Linked DNA regions of Homo sapiens. The protein of the gene in region 2 interacts with the protein of the main gene of each other region in a pairwise test. Each region holds a gene or a part of one and is shown on either strand. Other genes may lie near its edges. The genes, in order: MANBAL and PIGF.

Region 1 (12,509 bases), on a different chromosome or scaffold from region 2:
TCCCCACCCAAATCTCATCTTGAATTGTAGCTCCCATAATCCCCCCATGTTGTGGGAGGGTCCTGGTGGGAGACAATTGAATCATGGGGGTGGGTCTTTCCCATGCTATTCTCCTGATAGTGAATAAGTCTCAGGAGATCTGATGGTTTTATAAAGGGCAGTTCCCCTGCACACACTCTCTTGCCTGCTGTCACATAAGACATGCCCTTGCCTCCCCTTTGCCTTTTGCCGTGATTGTGAGGCCTACCCACCCATGTGGAACCGTGAGTCCGTTAAACCTCTTTTTCTTTATTAATTACCCAGTCTCGGGTATTTCTTCAAAGTGGTATGAAAATGGACTAATCCAACCACAGAAGTAAAGTGCTATTCTCATCACATCATATCAAGGGTACATACTATCGATATGAGTTATCATTGTTGACATCTGTTAGCTTGAGCCACCTGGCTTGAGGTAGTAGTCAGGCTTTTCCAGTGTAGAGTTACTTTTCCTCCTGCACTTTCCGCACTGTACTTTTGGAGAAAGTCATTATGTACAGCACACATTTAAGGAGTGTGGAATTATGCCCCATGCTTAAAGGCAGAGTATATAATGCAAATTATTTGGAGTTCTCTGTGGGAAATTTGTCTGTTCCCCTATTTTTTGCTTACAGAGTCATATATTTGTATCGGTGTGAACTCATGGATTTGTTTTGTTTTGAGACAGGGTCTCCCGCTGTCGCCCAGGCTGGAGTGCAGTGGTGCAGTCTTGGCTCACTGCAACCTCCACCTCCCGGGTTTAAGTGATTCTCCTGCCTCAGCCTCCTGAGTAGCTGGGATTACAGGCACCTACCACCATGGCTGGCTAATTTTTGTATTTTTAGTAGAGAGAGTTTCACCATGTTGGCCAGGCTGGTCTTGAACTCTTGACCTCAGGTGATCCACCTGCCTTGGCCTCCTGATTACAGGAATCCCCTCTCCTGGGATTACAGGCGTGAGCCACCATGCCGGGCCTGAACTCATGGATGTTTATTTTATACTTTGGACCAGAATCCAGTACTACTTTATTTTGTTGCTGAAATTGTTCCTCCATTGGCCATTGGGAGCTCTTCCACTTGGCTCCTGTATCCCTTTGACATATCCCCCTCTATATGTTTTGCTTTGTTTTGTTTTGTTGAGCACTTTCTTTCTATTCCAGACTCATCTGGTATGTTTCTGCCCCAGTCCTAGAATTAGCCATTTCCCAAGGAGCCCTGGCTCCTTTTATTGGAGAATGGCCCAGAAAACAAGATCTGGGCTCTAGGTATGCTCAGTGCTTCTCAGTGTCCTTGCTTCTAGGCCTTCGCAGTGGACAGAGTAAGAGACATACGTATATATGCACAGATCTAGAAGTATTTCCATATATAACCACCTGTATCTACGTTCAGCTAAACATAACTGATGTCCAACTCTTATCCATGACTGCATGGATTGTTCTAGCTTGGCAGTCCCCAACCTTTTTGGCACCAGGGACCGGTTTCATGGAAGACAATTTTTCCACAGACCTGGGGGTGGGGATGGTTTTGGGATGATTCAAGTGCATTACATTTATTGTGCACTTTATTTCTGTTACTATTACATTGTAATATATAATGGAATGATCATACAACTCACCATAATGTAGAATCAGTGGGAGCCCTGAGCTTGTTTTCCTACAACTAGACAGTCCCGTCTGGGGGTGATGGGAGACAGTGACAGATCATCAGGCATTAGATTCTCATAAGGAGCACACAGCCTAGATCCCTCACATGCACAGTTCACAATAGGGTTCGTGTTTCTATGAGAATCTAATGCAGCCGCTGATCTGATAGGAGGTGGAACTCAGACGGTAATGTGAGTGATGGGGAGCGGCTGTAAATATAAAAGAAACTTCGCTTGCTCACCTGCTGCTCACCTCCTGCTGTGCGGCCTGGTTCCTAACAGGCCATGGACTGGTACTGGTCTGTGGCCTGGGGGTTGGGGACCTGTGTTCTAGCTTCCTTCTCTTGCTTGTCTGTAACCTCCCACTCCACCTGTGACAAACCCGACTCCCACCATTCACCATACATTTACTTAATTGTTCCATTTAGCATACATGTATGGTGGTTTTAGAATTGCTCCCCCGATCCCCTGTGGGAAACAACTTATCAGCTAGAGTACAGTGTGTACGTGCAGTTCCTTTTGCCTTCAGTCTTACAGGCTCCACTCGTTTTCAAAGTTACTTAGGTCAGCACCCTATTCCCCCACTACCCTTTCAGTGAAGTTGTTTAATACATTTGGATTCAGAATGTCACATTCTGCATTCCATCCTGGAACACCCTGACTTCATGCGTGTGTATGTTGGTGTGTTTTAAAAACTGGGTCTCACTATGTTGCCCAAGCTGGTCGCAAACTGCCGGGCTCAAGCAATCCTCCTGCCTTGGCCTCTCACAGTTCTGGGATTATGGGTGTGAGCCACTGTGATGGCCTTCCTATGTCTTTTTAAAAATATTTGCATACATTAAACTTTACTCTTTGTGCTGTCAAGATTTTTGGGTTTTGACAAATGCTTAATATTTTGTATTCCTAATTATAGTGTCATACAGGATAGTTTCCCCTTCTTCAGGGATTATTTTTAACTTCTTTCAGATTTCACCTCAGCATTCCTGTTGGCCTTCACCAAAATATATCTGTAAGCTGAGAATTTACCACCTCCACAGCTACCACCCTGGTGCAAATGTGTCTTTTGACTGTTAAAGTAGCCTCTTCACTGGTCTCCTTGCTTTCAGTCTTGTCCCCTACAGTCTGTTGTCAACAAAGCAGCCAGAGGGATCATTTTGAAATGAGTGAGACCATGTGATTTCTTTGCTAAGAACCTTCCAGTAGTTCCCTTTTCACTCAGAGACTGGCCAGAGTCCTCATAATGGCCTGCAGCTTGCTTACTTGACTGTTCTTGATCATGATGCTTATTCCTGCCTCAGGGACTTGGCCCTTGCCGTCCCTCCATCCTGGGATACTCTGGCAGATGTTTAAATGACTTCTTCCTTTGCTTTCTTCTTTCCTCTGTTGAAATGTCACCTTTGCAGAGAGGCCCTTCCCCGACCACCTCATATTAAATAGTACTATCCTCTTCTTCCTTCCTGTATGTATTGTAATACTCACCCCTGACATTGCATGTGTATGTGTGTATGTGAGTACTTCTAACTGAATGGAAACTCCGTGGCAGGGATTAGACCAGTGCCTGGCACATAGTAGATTCACAATAAATATTTGTCCAATGAATTAATGTCTTACGTCACCAGTGTCTGGCATTCAGGGGTGAACTTCGCAGTGTCCAGTAACCTCATGAAATTATTTGCCACGTTCAGTAATAATTAATTATGCACCTTTTGTTAAATTCTGATGGGGTATGAAAGTCCCCTGGTGTATAAAAACCTCTACCTGTAAGCAAGTCTGGAGCAGGACAGGGCTAGAGACCAGGATAGCAGCTCTGCCCTGACTCATCAGGAGAGTCTAGGGAAACCTCGTGGCCTCTCAGCTCCTCCTTGTCGTTAAATGATGACTCTGTTGGTTGAGGCATCTGCTCTTGCTTTCGAGGTGGGAAACAGAGGCATAGGCTTAGTCATTTACCAAATATTTATGAGTCAGGACCTGGAATAAACTCAAGATGTACCCAAGATCCTTGCTGTTCAAGAGATTACAATGGATCAAATAGAAAACAGTAGATTCCAGTGTAATATTTCTCAAACAATAAGAAATAACATTCTAAAATTTGATCCAGCACATGCATGCTCAGATGTAGATGGATGTTGAAAAAGCTTCAGGATATAATACCGGCCCTTAATGTGATACTCTTTGATATTTTCTATTGTTATTTACCTACTTAAATAAAGTGCTGGCTAATAAAAAATGCTGGTTGCAGCCCCCTAAATGGTTTTCCTGGCTCACTAATGGGCCACAGCCTGCAGTTTGAAAACGATTGACATACTGGGTAAGCGCCCTGACTCTGGGGAAGCCAGCCCCTTTGAATCTTGCCTTTGCCACTTATCAGCCAGGTTATCCCTGGGTAGGTCATATAACCTCTCCAAGCCTTGGTTTCCTCATCCTCATTAGTAATACCACCTCCCAGTGTGGTGGTGAAGTATGCGAGTTGCTGCCTGTAAAGTGCTGTTCGCAACACCTGGCCGTTCATTTGCCGACTGCTGCTGCTGCTGGAACAATGGCCAGGGAACAAAACCTGTCACAGCCAGTCGAAGGGGTGTCTCCTAGTTGAGATCTGCAGGATGAATAGGACTTGTTTGACTTTGGTCATCAGGAAAGGAAAGCCCAGAAATACTGGCAGGAGGGCTGGGAAGTAAAGCACAGAGGTGCAGAGAGAACTAGATGAGAGCCGTACGGCGCACAGTGTGTGTAGAGCAGTTTATGTTTCCAGAACCTTTTCACAACCACCCTCCTGTTACACCTGTGCTGTCCAGTAGGGAACCTTTGGCCACATGTGGCTTTTTATTGTTAATTAGTTAAATAAAATGAAAAATTCAGTTTCTCTGTAACATTTAAGTTTTCAACAGCCACATGTGGCTGGTGGCTACCATTTGGAGAACACAAATACAGAACATTTCCATCACTGCAGAAAGCTTTATTGGACAGTATGACATTATACCCTAACAAAAGTCTTGTGAAGGAAGTAGGTAGGGCATAGATTTTTCTTAGATACTTTATTGTTTCATAACATTCCAAAAAATTAAAACTCATGACTTATTCACCTTAACAGCAACTATTTATGTTTCTGTAGCATCTTTTGATCTTTAGCCCATGAAATCAGCTTATAGATGGTTCCAATCATAGTGTTTATACAATTGCTTATTTTTTTCAATTACTGTTACTTTGCAAAGACTTTCCACTGACCTGATACACAATGTTTATATTTGCCGGGTTAGTGAAGAGGGATTATGCCATGATGTACCATCACTGGGTTAACTGCTTCCTGATTGTTGGACGCCTGGGTTGCTTCCTGTTTTTCAGTATTATGAATAGTGCTGCCATGAACTTTTTTGTACCTGAAGGCTTTTTCTTCTTTTGAATTGTTTCCTTACTATAAATTCTAGGAAGTAAGTTATTCAGTCAAAGGATATAATCACTTTTATGGCTCTTGTTATATTTTGTCTAATTGCCATTTTTTAAAAAAAGGCCTAAATGTATTATAGGTATCATTGTTGCTTGGCTCATGAGAACATCCCGTCTCCAGAGGTCAAGAGATTATTAGCCCAAAGTGTAGCTACTTGCAGATAGAGCAGGGGCTTTTGTCCTCTGCTTCCCAACTCTTGCCCTATCTTTCTATTGTACCACTCCAAATATTTCTTATCACAATGTTGCTGTTAGTAGTAACACTAGTAAATCTGAGTATTTATAAGCTCATAAAGCTTGTTACAGCCTTAAGCAAAAAGCTTGGGGCCAAGGGCGTTTTAAAAAATGCACACTTTATGAGGTGCAACTGCGGAGAAATGAGGACGCGTTCTTAAGCTTTGGTATTCACATGGTGGTGGTGCTGGTAGAGGCTGTTACATTTCTTCCAGTGAAGCTGTTCTTGCAGCCGCCTTGGAATTCACTTCAGGGCCAGTTTATGAGCCACCCCAAGTAATCTGCTTGGAGTCTGAGCATCATACCTTGTATTTGACCAAAAATGGTATTCCTGAGCTCAGTGCCACCTGATTCACTGCACTTGGAACCAGATGATGTTGGGCTCTTTCCAGAAGTCAAATCCTTCCTGGGAGGATGAAGATCTGCCAGCTCTGAGGATTCTGGCTGGGAAGAAAAAGAGCCTCAAGCTTTGAAGGCCATTCCCATGGTAGACAGAGCTGATGTGAAAAGTGGCCATCCTGTTGCCCCAGGCACATGACCTTCTGAAGTGACCAGGCTGAAAGGGAAGCAATACTCGTGTGTAAGTCCGGCTCTGTTTACTTACGAAGGTTGTTTTTATTATTCTTCGGTTACTTCATGTTGGAAACATGGTGCAAAGCAGTGAAGCAGCAGAGCCAAGGTGGCGGCAGGCCTTTTTTTTTTTTTGAGATGGAGTTTCACTCTTGTTGCCCAGGCTGGAGTGCAGTGGCGTGATCTCGGCCCACTGCAACCTCCGTCTCCCGAGTTCAAGCGATTCTCTTGCCTCAGCCTCCCAAGTAGCTGGGATTACAGGCACCTGCCACCATGTCCGGCTAATTTTTTTGTATTTTTATTAGAGACGGGGTTTCTCCATGTTGGTCAGGCTGGTCTCAAACTCCTGACCTCAGGTGATCTGCCCACCTCAGCCTCCCAAAGTGCTGGGATTACAGGCGTGAGCCACTGCGCCCTGTGAGGCAGGTCTTTAGGATTGTCTCTACCCCAGGGCTTCCCCACAGAAATATAATACAGACTATGTATAATTTTACATTTTCCAGTAGCCACATTTAAAAAGCAAAAAGGGATGATGCCTGTAATCTCAACACTTTGGGAGGCTGAGGCAGGAGGATCACTTGAGCATAAGAGTTTGAGGCTACAGTGAGTTATGTTTGTGCCATTGTACTCCAGCCTGGGTGACAGAGTGAGACCCTGTCTCTAAATAAATAAATAAATAAATGGGTAAAAAGAAACAGATTTTTAAAAAATTGTGACAAAATATATGTAACAAATTTACCATTTTAACCATTGTTAAGTTTACAATTCAGTGGTATTTGCAGTGTTGTATAACCGTCATCACTGTCTATTTCTAGAACTTTTTCATCTTTGCAAACTGAAACTCTGTACCCAGTAAACAATATCTCCCCATTTCCCTTCCCTCCAGCCCTTGGTAACCTCAATTCTACTTTCTGTCTCTGAATTTGCCTATTCCAGGTACCTCATATAAGGGGACTCATACAATATTTGTCCTTTTGTGTCTAGCTTATTTCATATATATTTATTCAAAGCTCATAATGTTTTCAAGGTTCATTCATGTTGTAGCATGTATCAGAATTTCATTTCCTTTATGGCTGAGTAATACTCCATTGTATGTATATACTACGTTTTGCTTATCCATTCATCTGTTTATGGACTCTTAGTTGTTTCCATCTTTTGGCTATTGTGAATAATGCTGCTATGAACATTAGTATCTTGAGTCCTTGCTTTCAATTCAATTTTTTTTTTTTTTTAAACAGGATCTCTCACCCCGTCACTCAGGGTGGCGCAATCACGACTCATTGGCTCACTGCAGCCTAGACCTCCCAGCTGGAGCAATTCTCCTGCCTCAGCCTTCTGAGTAGCTGGGACTACAGGTGTGTACCACCATGTCCGGCTAATTTTTAAATTTTTTATAGCAACAGGGTCCCACTCTGTTGCCCAGGCTGGTTTCAAACTCCTGGGTTCAAGTGATGCTTCTGCCTTGGCCTGTCAAAGTGTTGGGCTTACACTTTGGGCGTAACCCACCATGCCCAGCCAATTATTTTTTACGTGTATTTTTTGGTGGCAGGGTGGGGTGGGGGCAGGGTCGGGTGGGGGCAGGGTCTCGCTCTGTCACCCAGGCTGGAGTGCAGTGGCGTGATCGTGGCTCACTGCCTTAAGCTCCTGGGCTCAAGTGATCCTCCCACCTCAGCCTCTCGAGTAGCTGGGAATACAGGAGTGAGCCACCACTCCTGCCTAATTTATTATTTTTTTTGTAGAGATGGGGTCTCGCTGTGTTGTCCAGGCTGGTCTCAAACTCCTGAGCTCAAGTGATCTGCCCACCGTGGCCTCCCAAAGTGCTGAGATTATAGGCGTGAGCCACTGCAATCGTTTCAGCATGTAATCAATATGAAAACATTATGAATGAGATAGATTACATTCTTATTTTCATACTAGGTCTTTGAAAATGGGTGTGTAATTAGCATCTCAATTCAAACTAGCTGCGTTTCAAGTCTTAATAGTCATGTGTGGCTCATGGCCACCATATTGGATAGCTCAGACTTAGCAAAATATTGCATTGTGGCACAGATCTCTGGAAACACAAAGGGTTTTAGATTCAAGTGGGCCTGGTTCCAAAGTAAATTTGCCCCTTTATCATTGGGATGGGCAGAAGAAAGCCACTGATGGGTGCTGTGGTAAAGGGGGAGCAGTTCAGTCATGCCAGGGGAAGAGGAGGGTGACAGGAGAGGCATGTTGGGGAGATGACACTTGAGCTCAGCCTTAGAGGCAGAGTGGGGGCTTTGTCAAGCAGTCACAGTGGGAAAGGACATTCTTTGCAGAGTATGCAGCTTGGGCAGAGGCCCAGGATTTTGAAAGAGCCCAGTGCTCTTGGAGAACCACAGCAGTTCTTTCAGCTTGACTAGGATATTAGGAGTGGGGGCCCTGCTGAGAGGAGAGGCTGGAGAGCTGGGCTGAGGCTGGACCTTGCACCACTGGCCACCACTGCCCCTGTCATTCACGCCATCAGCAGCTCTTGTCTGGCTTATTGGCAGGGGCCTCCTCCTGGCTCTCCCTGTGTCCACTTTGCCTCTCCCCTTGTTGTCCCTCCTCCATTTAAAAATGGAAGTCAGATCATGTCACTTTTCTGCTCAAAACCCTTCAGTGGCTTTACATTTTACTCAATCAAATTGGAGGTATCAGGGTCCGCCCCCACTCCTCTCTGATCATACCTCCTTCCACCCTCCCTCCTGATCACTTCTCTGCCTGTACTGGCCTCATTTCCCCACCCTGGGGCCTCCACACTTGCTTTTTTCCCTGCCTGGAACGTGTTTCCCTCAGATACACAAATGGCTCCCTCTCTCACTTCTTATCTCTTCCACTCCATTCCCGTCTCTGTTCTTCAGAGAGAGCCTTCTCATCACAAAATAAAATGATGCCCTTAAGTTTTTTCCAAAATGCTTATCACTACCTGGCATATCACATCTCGACGTGTTCATTGTCTGCTTCCATCCTGAGCATGTAGAGGCTCCAAGAAAGCAGGGGTTTGTCTGTTTTGCTCATTCTTCAGTGCTTGGTATTCAAGAAATATTTGTTGAATGGATGACTACATGAATAAATAAACAACAAAACCTGAAACGTAGCAGCCTTTAGTAAATGTATGTTGATTTGAGATTTTTGTTGAAGTGCTTCCCTTTGCATTTATTTATTTTTCTCAACTTTATGTTTGGAAAACATCAGATACACAGAAAAGTTGAAAGAATGGTTCATTGACTGACCATATGTTCCCAACTTAGATTCAAGAGTTGTTAACATTTCACAATTCCTGTATATATTCTTGGGTGTGTGTGTGTGTGTTCAAGTTAAAAGTCAGTTACAGGCTGGGTGAGGTGGCTCACACCTGCAATCCCAGCACTTTGGGAGGCTGAGGCGGGCAGATCACCTGAGGTCAGGAGTTCAAGACCAGCGTGGCCAACGTGGTGAAACCCTGTCTCTACTAAAAATACAAAAATCATCCAGGTGTGTTGGCCCACACCTGTAATCCCAGCTACTCGGGAGGCCAAGGCAAGAGAATCACTTGAACCCAGGAGGCCGAAGTTGCAGTGATCATGCCATTGCACTCCAGCCTGGGCGACAGAGTGAGACTCCATCTCATAAATAAATAAATAAATAAATAAATAAATGTCAGTTACAGAAATATGACACTGACCCTTTGCATTTACAAGTTGGTTCTAAAGAGTGGTGAGTCAGAAGAGACGTCAGGCAGCAAGCGACTTGGGCCATGGCCTCTGACCTAGACTTCTCACCTCCGGAGGTGCCCGAGCCCACTTTCCTGGAGAACCTGCTACGGTACGGACTCTTCCTGGGAGCCATCTTCCAGCTCATCTGTGTGCTGGCCATCATCGTACCCATTCCCAAGTCCCACGAGGCGGTGAGTTTTTCCCTGGGAGCCTCAGCTCCTCTGAGTGCCAGGCTGGGTTCTGAGTACTAACAGTAGGTGCCACCACAACTGAGATCAGCAGGGTCTACATTGGGCCTTTTTGATTTAGTGTGCCTCTGAATTTCCACCTGGTGGGTTGAACCACATAGCTAATACTTTATTTGTTCATGTACCCATTAAGGAGATTTTTATTTAGTGCCTACTACATTTCAGACTCTGCTGAAGATGTAGTGTCTGCACCTGAGGAGCATCTAGTCCTTGGGAGGAAGGCAGATAACAAAAACATACCTCCATGTGCTCCCATGAGAAGTACAGAGTCCAGTGAGGCTATATAACAAGGGGGAGAGAGACCTGATCTTACCCTGGGCTGTGGGCCCTGCCGAGGAGGCAGTGTTTGAGCTGAGACTGAAGGAATGAGCAGGCTTCTGCCAGGTGAAAGTGGGCAAGGGGCGAGGACAACATTCCAGGGAGAGGGCACTGCACGTGCAAGGGACTCAATAAAGGAAGGGGCTAATTCAAGGAACTGAATGAAGGTGACTGTGGCCAGAGCACAGAGGGGGCATGATGAGTGGTGCAGCCAGAGGTGTGGGCAGGGGCCAGAGGGTTTTAAGTGTGAGAATGACATGGTCAAATTGGCTTTTTTGTTGTTGTTTTGACTCTTCTTCTGTAAGTATCTTTATAACTATACACCCTCCTTCTACCCACTTTCTTGCCCACTCCCATTTGCTCGTGACATTGATTTATTGGAGAAAGCAGGTCGTTTGTCATGTGGGATACCTACATCCCAGGAATTGGCTATTGCTTCTCTGTGGTGTCATTTAACGTGTTTCTCTGTTCCCTGTGTTTCCTGTCAACAGGAGTTCCATGTAGAGGCCTGATTCCATTCCAGTCAGGTTATTGGGTACGAATACCTCAGAGCTGGTGCTATGTACTCCCTACTGTGTGGCATCAACAAGCAGGTGGTGTCTGGCTGCTGCACATTTAGAGATTCTTGGATTGATCGGTGGGTTTAGGTGGTATCAGCTGATCCCTCCATTATAAAAATCCGGTCAGTCTTTCACCTAAGCGGTTTTAGCATCCATTGATGGTCGTTGCTTAGATCCATTATTTCCTTCTGCATCTGTTAGCTGGAATTCTTTAACAAAGACCTTTTCCTTATCACTTGTATGATTACTCTGAATTGCTCTTCATAATGAAAAGCAGGAAAAATGCTTGGTTCTTTCCCTTTATTTATCAATTTTCAAAGTTGTGAGTTCAGACTCTAGCAACTTCCAATGATGACCAATGAAGCTTTGGTTTTCATAGCATTCTGAACATATTTTTAATATATTTAATATGTTTTAGTTTTTTTTTTTTGAGGGCACTTATCTGCCATTAATTTGTTTTTTATGTTCAGTGGGAGCCCCTTTAAGTTGATGTCTTTGTTCTTTGTCATACTTCATTAGTCTTTGATAGCTTCCTTGCTTCATGGTTCAATAAGATGTCACAGGCTCTTTTTTGTGTGTGTGCGAGACAGGGTCTTGTCTGTTGCCCAGGCTGGAGTGCAGTGGCACAATCACAGCTCACTGCAATCTCTGTCTCCCAAGTTCAAGCAATTCTCCTGCTTCAGCCTCCCAAGTAGCTGGGACTACAGGTGTGCCACCATGGCTGGCTAATTTTTGTATTTTTAGTAGAGACACGGTTTTGCCATGTTGCCCAGGCTGGTCACAAACTCTTGGGCTCAAGCCATCCACTTGCCTTGAGCTCCCAAAGTGCTGGAATTATAGGCATGAGCCACTGCGCCTGGCCCCAGGCTCATTTTGTACATTTCCTGCCCCAGTCTTGGAATCAGTCATTTCTCTAAAATGCTCTGGTTCTTTTTAGCTAGAAAATAGTATCTAGAGGCTACAGTTGGGACATTAGAAGTTTTCAGTGCTACTGAGCTGTGATTGCATCTAGGCCTTTCAATAAACAGAAATAGAAAATAAACATTTTTTAAGAAATGAAAAAGTTGTGAGTTCATACTGGTATTTCCAATTCAAATGTAAGGTGATAGTGTTTCTATTTATTTGATTTTATACTAGTGTCTTGTAACTCTTTATCTTATGCTGGAAATCTTGTTCTCAATAACATTAACAAAATGATGTATCTGCTAGATCCTACTGAATCTGAGGTCCCCAGGACCACCCCAGGTTCAGTGATGCACTAGGACTCTCAGCTGTGGCAGTGAAAGGATACCAGGTATGGCGGCACAGGGAAAAGGTACATGGGGCAGAGACTGGAGGAAACAGGCGCAGGCGTCTGAGTGCTCTCCCATTGGATACCCACAGGAAGGATTTGTGGCAATGTGTGTGAAGTGTTATCTAGCAGGGAAGTGAGTTAGAGACTCAGTGCCCACATCTCTTACTGAGGACTGGTTACAGAAGCACCCTTGGCCTAGCATGTACCAAAATTCCAGACTTCCAGAAAGCAAGCAGGTGTTCAGCATGAACCTTATTGTTTACACAGTATAGGCGTGGTGAGCCACTCTTATCATTTCTGGGAATTGTGAGAACCACCTGGAATCCAAGTTCCCAGATGCCAGTCAAGGGCCAACCTTGCAAGCATGCTTCTCTAAGATTAGCAATTTATATTAACTTTATTCTGCTCATCTACAATATACCAGTTACACTTTTAAAATAACTATATTTTTTACTACTAAGACTCAGAATGAAATTTAAGACTTCTTTGT
Region 2 (12,509 bases):
GGGATTACAGGCGTGAGCCACCGCGCCCAGCCATAAAGCAATCATCTTTAATACATGCTGTTCTTCATGTGAAATGTCTGTTACAAGAGCAAATTCAGGAGCTGTACAACATACTGGCATTACGTTAACCATCTGTATCCTTACCTCAGAAGGTTACCCTGCTGCTAGCTGTCATTTTTCATAAATTCGAAGAAACAAAATTTTAAGTACAGATAGTGGTTTTAAACTAATCATTGGTAGGCATTTGTGTTAATTTTTAAAGGCTCATATGAATGACTCCATTCATTCGAAACTATTTGTGGAGCCCCTACCTTAACCCAGCAGTTAAAGGTGTAAACTAAGATTAAATTATTTAATTTTGGATACATTTTAGTATAAATTCTTAAAAATGTGTTCCAATATAATAAATATTACTTATAATTTTGGGGGAGATTTACACTGTCACAGATAACATGGAGAAACTGACCTATCTGCAAATCAGAACACCTACAGACATTTAGAACAACTCACAACCATTAGGATTACTGTCTCTCTCGAGATAAAAAGGAAGATAAAATCCAGTTCTCAATCTCTCATGAGCTACTTTTCAATATGTTTGTTTTGTTAATTGTGCTTATCACAAATTTGCATTTGCATGACTGAGAGAGTTCATCTTTCAAAGCCTGCTGACCTACTGGTTATAAATAATCATTTATATTCTCCTCCAAAATTGGTCTTGAACAGTATGTTTTTCCAGATATTCCTAAAGTAAATGTTATTGTCTGATACAGGAATACATGCACAAATGAATCTACTCATTGGGATACATTTCTCTAGTTAAAAATCTACACTCATCCATGTATACACTCTCCTGTGACTAAGAATACTACTTTAGGAAGAGTTATTTGCGAAGGGGTGTGTAGTTCCTGGTCTGGAATTCTTGTCAAAATGACACTAAAAGGTTCTGGTCACAACTCGTGCAAACGAGTTAACTTGGCCAGCATTATTCTCTCTAACATGAAAGTCCTGTTAGCAGAGCATTATCAACATGATTACCCTACGATGAACACGCCTTTTCAATCCAAAACCATTTCATGCCAGTTCAATGTTAACACATTTTTCTCATGCTTGAAACATACAAACCATATTCATATAAATGAGTATTTTATTTTGGTCTAAAACACAGTATCATCCCTTTGGTAATGGAAATACCAATTAACGTAAAAACCTGCAGCTCTTCAATCAATCAAATCCATAATCTTAGTTTTAATCTCCCTCCAGCATTTTGCAGTAATTCATGTAGTTATAATCCTATGATTCCTAGTTTCAACTTATGAAAGAATTATCTGTGGCATCTGTGACTTTAGGAAATGAATATACATATTTCACAAATACTAGATTTCTAACGTGGTAAAACTGAAAAAAAAAAACCCAAAAAATTTTTAAATACAACAATGCCTCATTTATCTGGTGTCTGTTGAGAATAAGTACAAATATTTTAAAACAACTTTAAATTGTTTCAAAGACGATCTCAGGTGTCTAAAATTCAAAATCTCCAAATTCAGTTATTTAAAATACTTTATATCAATTTTCCTTTTTACCTTCGTAAGAAATAAGCATCCTAGCCGAGACTTGATTATTTGGTTCAAATATTTTTAAAGATTGTAGCACTGAAGTCCATAGTTTAAAGGCATGTGTGGATTTGTTAGGGACAAAATCATTGCATATTAGCTTTAAATATTCTCCTACAAATAAATTACGGCCTAAAATACAGACACCACCACAACGGTCAAGGCATGTAATGAAAACAATGTGGGGAAAGAAATGAAATATAATAAGTAATTTAGCTATTCCAAAGAGACCTAAGCTATGACCATTTTTTAAAAAGAAAAGCTATGTTTTAGTTTCCAGCAATGAAAAGAATCATGGTGTAGTGGGGCTCTCATGTGAATCTTAAGTCTCCCTCTTCCCACCTGAGTAATGCTAAGCAAGATGTGTACTCCTCCCCTCTCACACTTGGACTTTCTAGTGTATAAAATGGGAGTAAAACCTACCTTGCACTACGGTTGTCAGGATTAAGTTACTCATTTCACAGTACCAAGCCCCCTGCAGGGTACATGGAGAGATCTATAAGTGCTACGTTTTCTTTCTACTGTCATCTGAAATGTCAGACAGGATTGAAAATTATGTGAAATCCAAATACCCTAAATTGGCATAACTAAATACCAGAGAAATAGATAAATTAACAGTCCACTCTACCAACTGAAAGACTGCTGGGCAGAAAAAATAAAACAACAAACTGAGACAATTAACATATTCTCTAATATATGAGAACTCAAATAAATCATGGAATTTGCATTTTTTGAAGGCTAAAAATATAGTCATTAAACTATGTCTTTTCTAGGTCACAAATGCCTGTAACATTAATTAAGTAATAACCATGTGTCAGGTGCTGAGCTAGGTATTTTAGAGGGATTTTATTATTTCATCCTCACTAGCAAGTGACAAAGCCAGGATTTCAACCCAGTAATCTGATGCCAGAACTCCTAATCATCATGTTACCTGCCTACCCATTAATAAAACGTGAGTTTAAAAACCTCATGGTCAATTTCCTGTGCTCAGAATAACCAACAATATTTCTTAACCTTCCACTAATTTTTTATAACATGAAATACTAGCCATGTTTTGACAAGACATTTTCCAGATGAAAAACCTCATAGCTACATATTCTATGAAATAGTTACAGCATATTAAATCTAAATCACAGTTCAAATCTAAATTATTAAATAATTAAATTCCAGTCCTGGGTGTATTTAAGTATCTGTTGTACTTACTTACACAGAACATATGCTATGCATACAGTAATAACAACAAATACTTATTGATTAGCTATTTAGTTACAGCAGATAAAGAATCAAATTATAAAATACAAAGGTTTTCTGTAGTCCAAATATTTATTTTGTCAGCAACTATAAGCTTTCTCTAGAAGTTGAAAAAGCCTATCTGGATTATGGGAAATTCAAATATTTGTTTTCTTGCTGAGATTTTAAGGCAAATAAGGTAGAGGCAAGAAGATGACTTTAAAGTATTAAAACAACAACAAAGATGACCAACAGTATAATGGGTAGCTACCCTACCATATTCTCTTTAACCATATCCCCTTGCTGCCTTCTACAAAAGAAAGGCTTCCTCCAACTATAAAGATGCCTAATCTTTCATCACTTGCCATTATTTAAAATCACTTAAGATTTATATTAAGTTAAAAAACTTTTACATTGAGATCACATATTTTCAGTGGGCCTTTCCAGTCATTTAATGAAGAAATTATTTTAAACATAAAAATATGCTTGAAACAGCTCATTACAGAATCCACATCACTATAATCTTATGCTTGGCCTCAGGAATGTTATACAATGGTTTGAGTTCAAAGTAAAGAAAACTGAATTAAAACATGTAGTAGATTTTGTGGGGTTTTGTGTGTGTGTGTGCATGTGTGTGTTTTTAAAGGTACAATTGCTTAACCAGATATTCCTGTTTCTCTGACTGGAATATAAATAAAACCAGAACACAATCCAGAAAAGCTTGCTTTACCACAAGCAGATCAAATCGGTATTGGGCTACAAGGAACACAGAACAAGAATCTCTTAATACATGTTCTATTTTAGATAATAAAGTGTATACTGTATTGTCTTCTCATGAAATTTTGCTCTAACAACATCTCCACTTTTAGAAAATGCCATATTCCCTTATCTGATTTATTGCTTCTCTGGGAGATGCTGTTCTGTGGAGTTAGAATTATTAAAAAATAACAATAACAAAAAAACAAACAACCTTGTTTGCTGGAAATAAAAAGTGAAAAAAAAACCTCATTTCTTTAGTTTATTAGTAAATAACTGCTAAAAGGGCAAGGAGCAGATGAGTGCTATATGAATAAAAGATTTTTAATTATACATCAATTCTATCATTCCCTCAACAATACATTTCATAATTTAAAAGGTTTACAGTGAATACGTGGGTCATTAACTTGGAATATTCTAAAAACAACCCAATAGTAAAGATAATTACATGGCCAGTAATATTCCAGCTGAATGAAACACTCTTAATGGAAACCAACACTTGTTATGTATTTAAATTAGATTTAAAATTAAATTAATTTCCAGCTACCTAGAAAATCTTTTTAAAAAGTCAGTAATTCAAATGGAAACTTTACATTAATTTAAAAAGTAATACCATCAATTTGGATCTAGTTCATCCTTATTGTTAACAAGCACTGAGGGAGAAAAATGGGTCATCAGCTAAAAGCCTGAACAATCCCAAAATGGGTGACTGAACTGTAAATAATTAAGATATATATTTTCTAAGCAAACCTAAACACATATTTTATAAAGCACATATATTCATTCCTCTTAGTTCAGTTTCTACTACTGCACTGTCTTGTAAACAGAAAAGACTTAAATTATGTGTAATATATCAAACCTTTACACTCTAATGTATTGCATCATATACAAAATGATTATTATATCTTACCAACTCATTAAAGCTAATGTCCCATAGTACTTTATTTATCAATACTTTCTATTTAGATTTAATTGCATTACTTGATAGCAATGAATCTACACAGTTTCAATTTTCTGTGTATACTTTTCAATGATTTTGATTGTCCTCCAATTTAGAAATCACTGACACTCTGTTGAATGACATCAAGTATGGATGACTTCTATAAGATGTCAACTTAAGAAACCTTTACTAGCACCAAAAACTTGAGATGGGAATCTGTGACGATACACACACCAAACCTCCAAGGATTTCTCTAATATAGTGATGAAGAGTTAAAACAGGGAAGGGCAAACCTATCAGACCTATTAAACATGAAACAACAATTTGACTTTCGGGGAGACACGACATCTAACTGAAAGCACAAAGAATAGAGCTAAATGTAGGCAGTTATGTGCAAGGCACACAATCTGGATCCCACATTTGGCAAATGAGGTATGTATCAAAGATTTAATTCATCAATTCATTAGGTAGGACTCTACCCTACAGAGAAAATTGGACAAATATGCAAAGATGTATAAGTATGATAATGACCATATTTGATAATAAAATAATAATAGTAAAATAGGAAATGACCTAAATGTTCTTTAATAAAAAACTGGTACAATATTTTACACAAATAATCGAATATTACATATATGTAAGTTTTCATTGACATAGAATGAGCTCCATAATATACTGCTGAGGGGAAAAAGCAGATTAAAAACAACATGAATATTATAGTTACAGGCATGGAGAGAGACAGCTGCAAAAATTATCACCAAAAGCAAATGGAGGTTTCCTCTGGGTGGTTGGGGAGGAAAGTAATTTTTACTTTCTTCCTTAGAATTACTAATATTGCTTTAATTTTCTAAATAAATATACATTATCTTCGTGATCAGAAAAAAATTATCTTCATGTTGGAAAAAGAAAGCACATTTATTTTTTAATACCATAATTCTTTTTGGGAGTAATTACTCTGTGAACCTAATTAGAAAAATTCAAGAAGCTATAGATTCAAAGATTTTATCACAGCAGTGTTTATTATCACAAAATACTGGCAATAATCTAAATGATCAATAGTGAATTTGTTAAATAAGTTATAAAGTATATAATGGCATACTACAAAGTCATTAATATTAAGATAAAGATACAGTCATCACTGTAAGTTCAGTGACCTTGGGAATGTTACATACCCTCTAGGTGTCAGTTTCCTCATCTGTAAAATGGGTATAAAAAGAGCACTTACCTCACAGTGCTTTACCTAGCATATCAGCTTTATCTTATTGTGATACAAGACGAAAAATCTGATGTTTGTGAGCTTTCTTGATAACACAGGCCGCTGCTGCAAAAATTACCTTGCTATCTGCTTCTAAAAATTTCAAGAGGAACATTCAATTTGGCCATCAATCAAGTTCAGAAAATATGAATATAAGACCACAAGGGCAATAAATATCAAAGTTGAAAATAGGAAATTTCTGCAGCTATTAACCTAGTTTTTAAAAATTCCTATACTGGCTGGGCTCGGTGGCACACACCTGTAGTCCCAGCCACTTGGGAGGCTGAAGCAGGAAGATCGTTTAGGCCCAAGCATTAGAGGACAGCCTGGGCAAGAGAGTGAGAACCTGTCTTTTTTAAAAACAATAAACAAACCGCCTATATACAATCACAAAATAAGCTTGTTTATTCATCTACACATGTGCAAAAAATAGTGCTAGAAGATAAAACCAGGGCTACCTAGACACCTGTGGCACTGGACAGTCCCCATTAAGAAGCTGCCCAGATTACAGTGACTGATAGAAGTGGTATCCCTACTTAATTGAACAACAAAACAATTTACATATACACACTAGTTTGCTTCATCTGTTTTACTATCATTGTACAAACATTTATTTTGTTGCTTTAAGTAACTGAAACCAACCTGCCATGGTCTTTCCCAATCCAGTGGAATAGGAAGTGCTCCAAGCCATGCTCCTACAAAGCTAGAAATTGTAGTGATCTGGAGACTATTCTCCCATATGGATGTAACTCTGTGAAACACAAATTGGTACATCGTTGGTGGTATATACATGAGCTGCTGGAGAATCCAACAAGCACTAGCACACATTATCAGTATACATATATTTCCTGCTAATTTAAAATGAAAATCTCAAAATGACATATACATATTTACCATGAACTATTAATAGTTAATTGGTAAGAAGATGTAAATGTTTTCCATTGGAAAGGTAATATACAGACGCACTAGGAGTCAAACCATGTTAAAGAGCATTTGTAGAAACAGCTAAGTCTTCCACCCCTATCATCAACTCCTGGTTCCTTTCCCCACAGGCAACTGCTATTATGCTAAATTATTACATATTCTTCCAGAAATATTTTATACAGGCACAAATACACACATAATTTTGTTTTGAAGGATATATGTACATTTGCATAAATACACATGTACATATGTATATTTCTTCAAAACAAAACTCAGATGCATCATGTTATAAACCAAGTTTTGCTTGTTTTTCCTTGTTAACAGCTGTAACAGTATTCCATTGTATGGATGGTGCATCATTTATTCAACCAGTCTTTCTTTTTTTTTTTTTTTTTCAGACGGAGTCTCACTCTGTGTCCAGGCTGGAGTGCAATGGAGCGATCTCGGCTCACTGCAACCTCAGCCTCCCGGGTTCAAGCGATTCTCCTGCCTCAGACTCCTGAGTAGCTGGGATTACAGGTGTGTGCCACCATGCCCAGCTAATTTTTGTACTTTTAGTAGAGATGGGGTTTCACTGTGTTGGCCAGGCTGGTCTCGAACTCCTAACCTTGTGATCCACCCACCTTGGCCTCCCAAAGTGTTGGGATTATAGGCATGAGCCACTGCACCCGGCCTCAACTAGTCTTTCTTACAGCACACTTCATTTATATAAACCAATTCAATTTACTTGGCAAGAAACAGGCAGAGAACAAGAACAAAGTATTTCAAAAGATCTGGTGATTCTGCCTACCGTTCCTATTTACTAAGTGCACATCTGAGAGTGTAAAGGTGGAAAGACTTAATTCTGCCATTCTCTTAGTAGGTGTTAGTTTCAGCCTGGCCCTCATAGGGTGAACACTTCATCATGTAGAACAGGAGTCTGGTTACAGTCAGGTAAAAGCCCACTGCAATGCACTAAGTGGGGTCCAAATATTCAATTGTTTAAATTGCAAGGTGAAGTTATTGAAAAGTAGCCTCTTCTAGATAGTATGGGGGAAAACATTTGTTTTGTTAGATGATTTATTTAACTAGAAACAGGCCAATTATTACACGCAAAATGTACACTGAATTTTAAAAGTCCCAAATGATGACAAGTCAGTTCACAAACCAATCCCTCTATCATCCTCCATCTCATACTCCCCAACTACACAAGATAAGAGCCTTAGCTTGTTTCCATTGAGAAGCAGGGCTAAGAACGGGCTGGAGCCAATCACATATATCCAAATTTGTACTATTTGTAGGGCTTTATTATTCTTTTTTATTTCATGTAACACCTATAAATATAAGTCAGCTTTTTCAACTAGCATTCAATAGAACAGAGATGTGTTCCAATGTTGGAAGGAAAAACTGGCCAAGTTCAATGTAAAGGGAATTGTACTATTTTAGCAATTTAAAGGATTTCCTAGGCCAATTTTTGACTACATGTGGCTGACAATGATGACTAAGCTTCAACTTAACACACACCTCCTCTATACTGTAATACATAAAGTGATGTGCCTGGAAACATAAGGTGTGGTAGAGGTTGAGAGCAGAGATTACTTTCTGTTGGGAAGAATTCACTTTTTCTATTTTATGGAACAGGAGGAAGTTCAGCTGGATTGGAAAGAATAGGTAGCATCAGGTCTTAAACTGGAGGACTGGAGAAAAGAGCTGCACTGCAGACAAGAGAACACAAGTCAGATTGCTAGAGGCCACGTGGAAGAACGAGAAATAAGGCTGGAAAAGTAGGGCAGAGTTAGGATTTTTTTTTTTTTTTTGAGACGGAGTTTCGCTGTTGTTGCCCAGGCTGGAGTGTAATAGAGTGATCTCGGATCACTGCAACCTCCACCTCCCGGGTTCAAGCCATTCTTCTGTCTCAGACTCCTGAGTAGCTGGGATTACAGGTGTGTGCCATCACACCAGGCTAATTTTTGTATTTTTAGTAGAGATGGGGTTTCACCATGTTGGCCAGGCTGGTCTCGAACTCCTGACCTTGTGATCCGCCGGCCTCAGCCTCCCAAAGTGCTGGGATTACAGGTGTGAGCCACTGCGCCCGGCCCTCACCGTTTTTTTTTTTGTTTGTTTTTGTTTTTGAGATGGAGTTTCGCTCTTGTTGCCTAGGCTGGAATGCAATGGCGCAACCTGGGCTCACTGCAACGTCCGCCTCCCGGATTCAAGGGATTCTCCTGCCTCAGCCTCCCGAATAGCTGGGATTATAGGTGGCTAATTTTTTGTATTTTTTTTTAGTAGAGATGGGGTTTCACCATTTTGGTCAGGCTGGTCTCCACAGTTAGGATTTTTAAAAATAGCTTTATTGAGTAGAGTCAAAAATTATCCTAGAAAATCCTTTCTAGCCATACAATTCACTAATTTCAAGTATACAAATCAATGGTTTTTAGTATATTCACAGAGTCGTGCAGCCATCACCACTGTAAGTTTTAGAACATTTTCATCATCCCCAGACTCTTTAACCATTACCAATCACTCTCCATTTCTCCTTCCTCCCAGCCCTAGGCAACCACTAAGCTACTTTCTGTCTCTCTGGATTTGCCTATTCTGGACATTTCATATAAATGGAATCATAAAGCATGTATGACTGGCTTCTTTTTCCTAGCATAATGTTTTCAAGGTTCATCCATGTTGCAGCATGTATCAATATTTCATTCCTTTTTATGGCTCAATCATATTCCCTTCAAGGGATATTCCACATTTTATCTATTCAACAGCTGATGGATATTTGGGTTGCTTCTACTTTTTGGTTATTATGAATAATGTTGCTATGAACATTTATGCACAAGTTTCTGTGTGAGCATATGTTTTCATCTCTCTTGGGATTACACCTAGGAGTGGAATTGTTAGGTCCTATGGAAACTCTTATATTTAATCACTTGAGGAACTAACTACCAGACTCTTCCAAAATGGCTGAACCATTTTATATTCCCACCAGCAGTGTATGAGGATTCCAATTTTTCCACACCCTCCTGACACTTGTCATTATCTTTTTTTTATTACAGTCATCGTAATTGGTGTGAAATGGTATCATGGTGATAGATTTAGGGTTAGGATTTTAGAAAATTCTTAAATATCAAACTAAGGAACCATGAAGGTTTTCAATCAACGCAACTTTACGATCAGAGATGTTTCAATAAGATTTATGTGGCTGGGTGCGGTGGCTCTCGCCTGAAATCCCAACACTTCAGGACGCAGAGGCGGGCGGATCACAAGGTCAGGAGTTCGAGACCAGCCTGGCCAACATGATGAAACCCCATCTCTACTAAAAATACAAAAAATTAGCTGGGCGCAGCGTCAGGCACCTGTAATCCCAGCTACTCGGGAGGCTGAGAACGGAGAATCGCTTGAACCCGGGAGGCGGAGGTTGTCGTGAGCCGAGACGATGCCATTATACTCCAGCCTGGCGACAGAGCGAGACCCCATCTCAAAAAAAAAAAAAAAAAGATTGATGTATGTATCTTTCTAACCTCTAAGTTCTAAGTTCCTTGGGCTAAGAGGCAAAATCCATGCCTTCACATTTTTCACGGTTCCAGCACACTTGTGGCCATCTTATGTTTATTAAAATAAAAAATATGATCATCCAAGAGGTTGCCCTCTATTTTGTGGTAGCCAAGTGTTTATGATCCTACATATAATAAATGTAGAAAAAATGGAACTGAGACCTATTTTTAAAAATAGAAAAACTCTGTAGCTTGTTTTTAAAGTAAAAATTTCATATTTATCAAAATAATATATGTGACATCTTTAAAGTAAAGGAGTACAATTAAACTAATAATAAAAATAGTAGTCTCCTCTTCCATCCCTCCCCACTCCTGATGTCTGCTCCAAGACAGATATTTTCAACTCTTTTTGCTGCTTCTTCTATTTACCTCAAATTAAAAAAAAAAACATAAATTAAGTATAGATTTTTCAAGATTAACTTACTTTCTGCCTTCTTCTAAGGGAGAAGATTTAGCACCTTTTATCTACAAGCTGCCTACCTCCACATACACATTTCTCCCTGACTCACGCCCCTTCTACAATGGTAACATCTCCTCCTTTCAACCGAATCAATAGTAATGTCTACGTTATGATGATTATAAAACTGCTAATCACAGTGAACCACACAGTAAACCACAATTATACATTTCTTTTCTCATAGTAAATATAATCTTTAATTGTCCATGGATGTTAAGAACTGCCTCTTTTTCCCTGCTCTGTTTGCTTACGTACCTGTCATTAAGTAATTTTCACATATTCCAAAGAAGCTAAGTAGTACCTCTAAATGCTTGATTTCTTCTCCCCGCTCCTTCCATCTTTTTGGAGCCACCTAGGACTGCTGCAAAACTGCTGTGCTGTGGGGTCCCTGCACGAGCATCTTGTGAATTCCCTTTGCCTCTCTCAGTTCTTTTGGATCTGCTCTTTCCTAAATTCCAAGACTTCCTCCATCTATCTTCCTTTTTCTTTTCTTTTTAAGCACCTCTTTCAATAGATTCCTGAGAAAGGAATTTTCTTTTTCAGCACCTCCTTCCATAGATTCCTGAGAAAGGGTACATGGAAAATAGATGCTTAGAGATGTTTTAAGTCTGAAAATGATTTTACTGTAATTTTTGGGAATCATTCTGCCTCAGAATTTGTGGGGGGTTTTTTGTTGTTTTTTTTTTTGAGGTGAAGTCTCACTTTGTCATCCAGGCTGGAGTGCAGTGGCACGATCTTGGCTTACTGCAACGTCTGCCTCCTGGGCTCAAGCGATTCTCCTGCCTCAGCCTGCCGAGTAGCTGGGATTACAGGCGCCTGCCACCATGCCCAGCTATTTTTGTATTTTTAGTAGAGATGGGGTTTCACCTTGTTGGCCAGGCTGGTCTCGAACTCCTGACCTCAAATGATCTGCCCACCTCGGCCTCCCAAAGTGCTGGGATTATAGGCGTGAGCCACAGCGCCTGGCCCTGCCTCAGAATTTGGAAGGCACTGCTCCAATGTTTTCTGATTCCCACTTGAGAAGTTCAGTGCCATTCTGGTTTCCCGTCCTCTGTAGGTATCATGTTTCTCTCATTCTCTAAAAACTTTTAGAATGATCTCTTTATTGCTGGTTATCAAAAATTTCACAAAAATGTTTTTTAAAGTGTTTTTTCATCCACTATGCTGAAAATATATGGGCCTTCTTAATCTAAAATCTCAGGTATTCTGGTTCTTAAAATTGTCTTCTACTTAAAGACCTTGTTTGATCAGATCACTTAAGAATTTTTCCCTTACTCTTGCTAGGTATACTATTATTTTGAACTAATTTCTGCTTTTATCTTTTAATTCATTTTGCAATCTTTACCTTTTTGTTTGACTAGGGAATCTTTTCAAGTTTTGTCTCTACTTCCGTTGAGTATTTTTATTCCCCAAAAGTTTTCTTGTTCTCTGAATATGCATTTTGACTGCCTCCTGTTCACCTTTTATGGTAAACTTTAAAAAAAAAAAGTAAGTTTTTAAGTTATCTTCTGTCTTTATATACTGCCTCTATTTCCCCTGAGTTTCTTTTTTGTTGTTTTCATTTCTGGATTTTATTTGACGTATTCCTCAAATATCTGGTGATTCTTTACTTCTCATTCTACTTAAAACACCATGTATGTAATGTCCAGACTAGGCAAATCTACAGAGATAGAAAATATATTAGTGTAAGCTTCTCTAACCCACGGCCCATAGGCCACATGTGGCCCAGGATGGCTTTGAATGTGGCCCAACACAAATTCATAAACTTTCTTAAAACATTATGAGATTTTTTTTTTTTTTTTTTTTT

What was found.
Region 1: the proteins of PIGF (region 2) and MANBAL interact in binary tests that used the Homo sapiens proteins (3 or more experiments, as listed by UniProt).

Annotation. Positions count from the first base shown.
Region 1 is NC_000020.11:37,291,624-37,304,132, forward strand, and holds part of MANBAL (protein MANBAL), read left to right. Parts: intron 1-5,672; exon of another isoform or gene 5,673-5,911; intron 5,912-7,139; exon of another isoform or gene 7,140-7,256; intron 7,257-9,547; exon of another isoform or gene 9,548-9,584; 5' UTR 9,585-9,640; coding exon 9,641-9,790; intron 9,791-10,656; coding exon of another isoform or gene 10,657-10,677; exon of another isoform or gene 10,678-12,509.
Region 2 is NC_000002.12:46,586,042-46,598,550, forward strand, and holds part of PIGF (GPI ethanolamine phosphate transferase, stabilizing subunit), read right to left. Parts: intron 10,196-12,509; exon of another isoform or gene 7,317-10,195; intron 6,543-7,316; coding exon 6,434-6,542; intron 5,885-6,433; coding exon of another isoform or gene 5,867-5,884; exon of another isoform or gene 5,106-5,866; intron 2,139-5,105; coding exon of another isoform or gene 2,034-2,138; intron 1-2,033.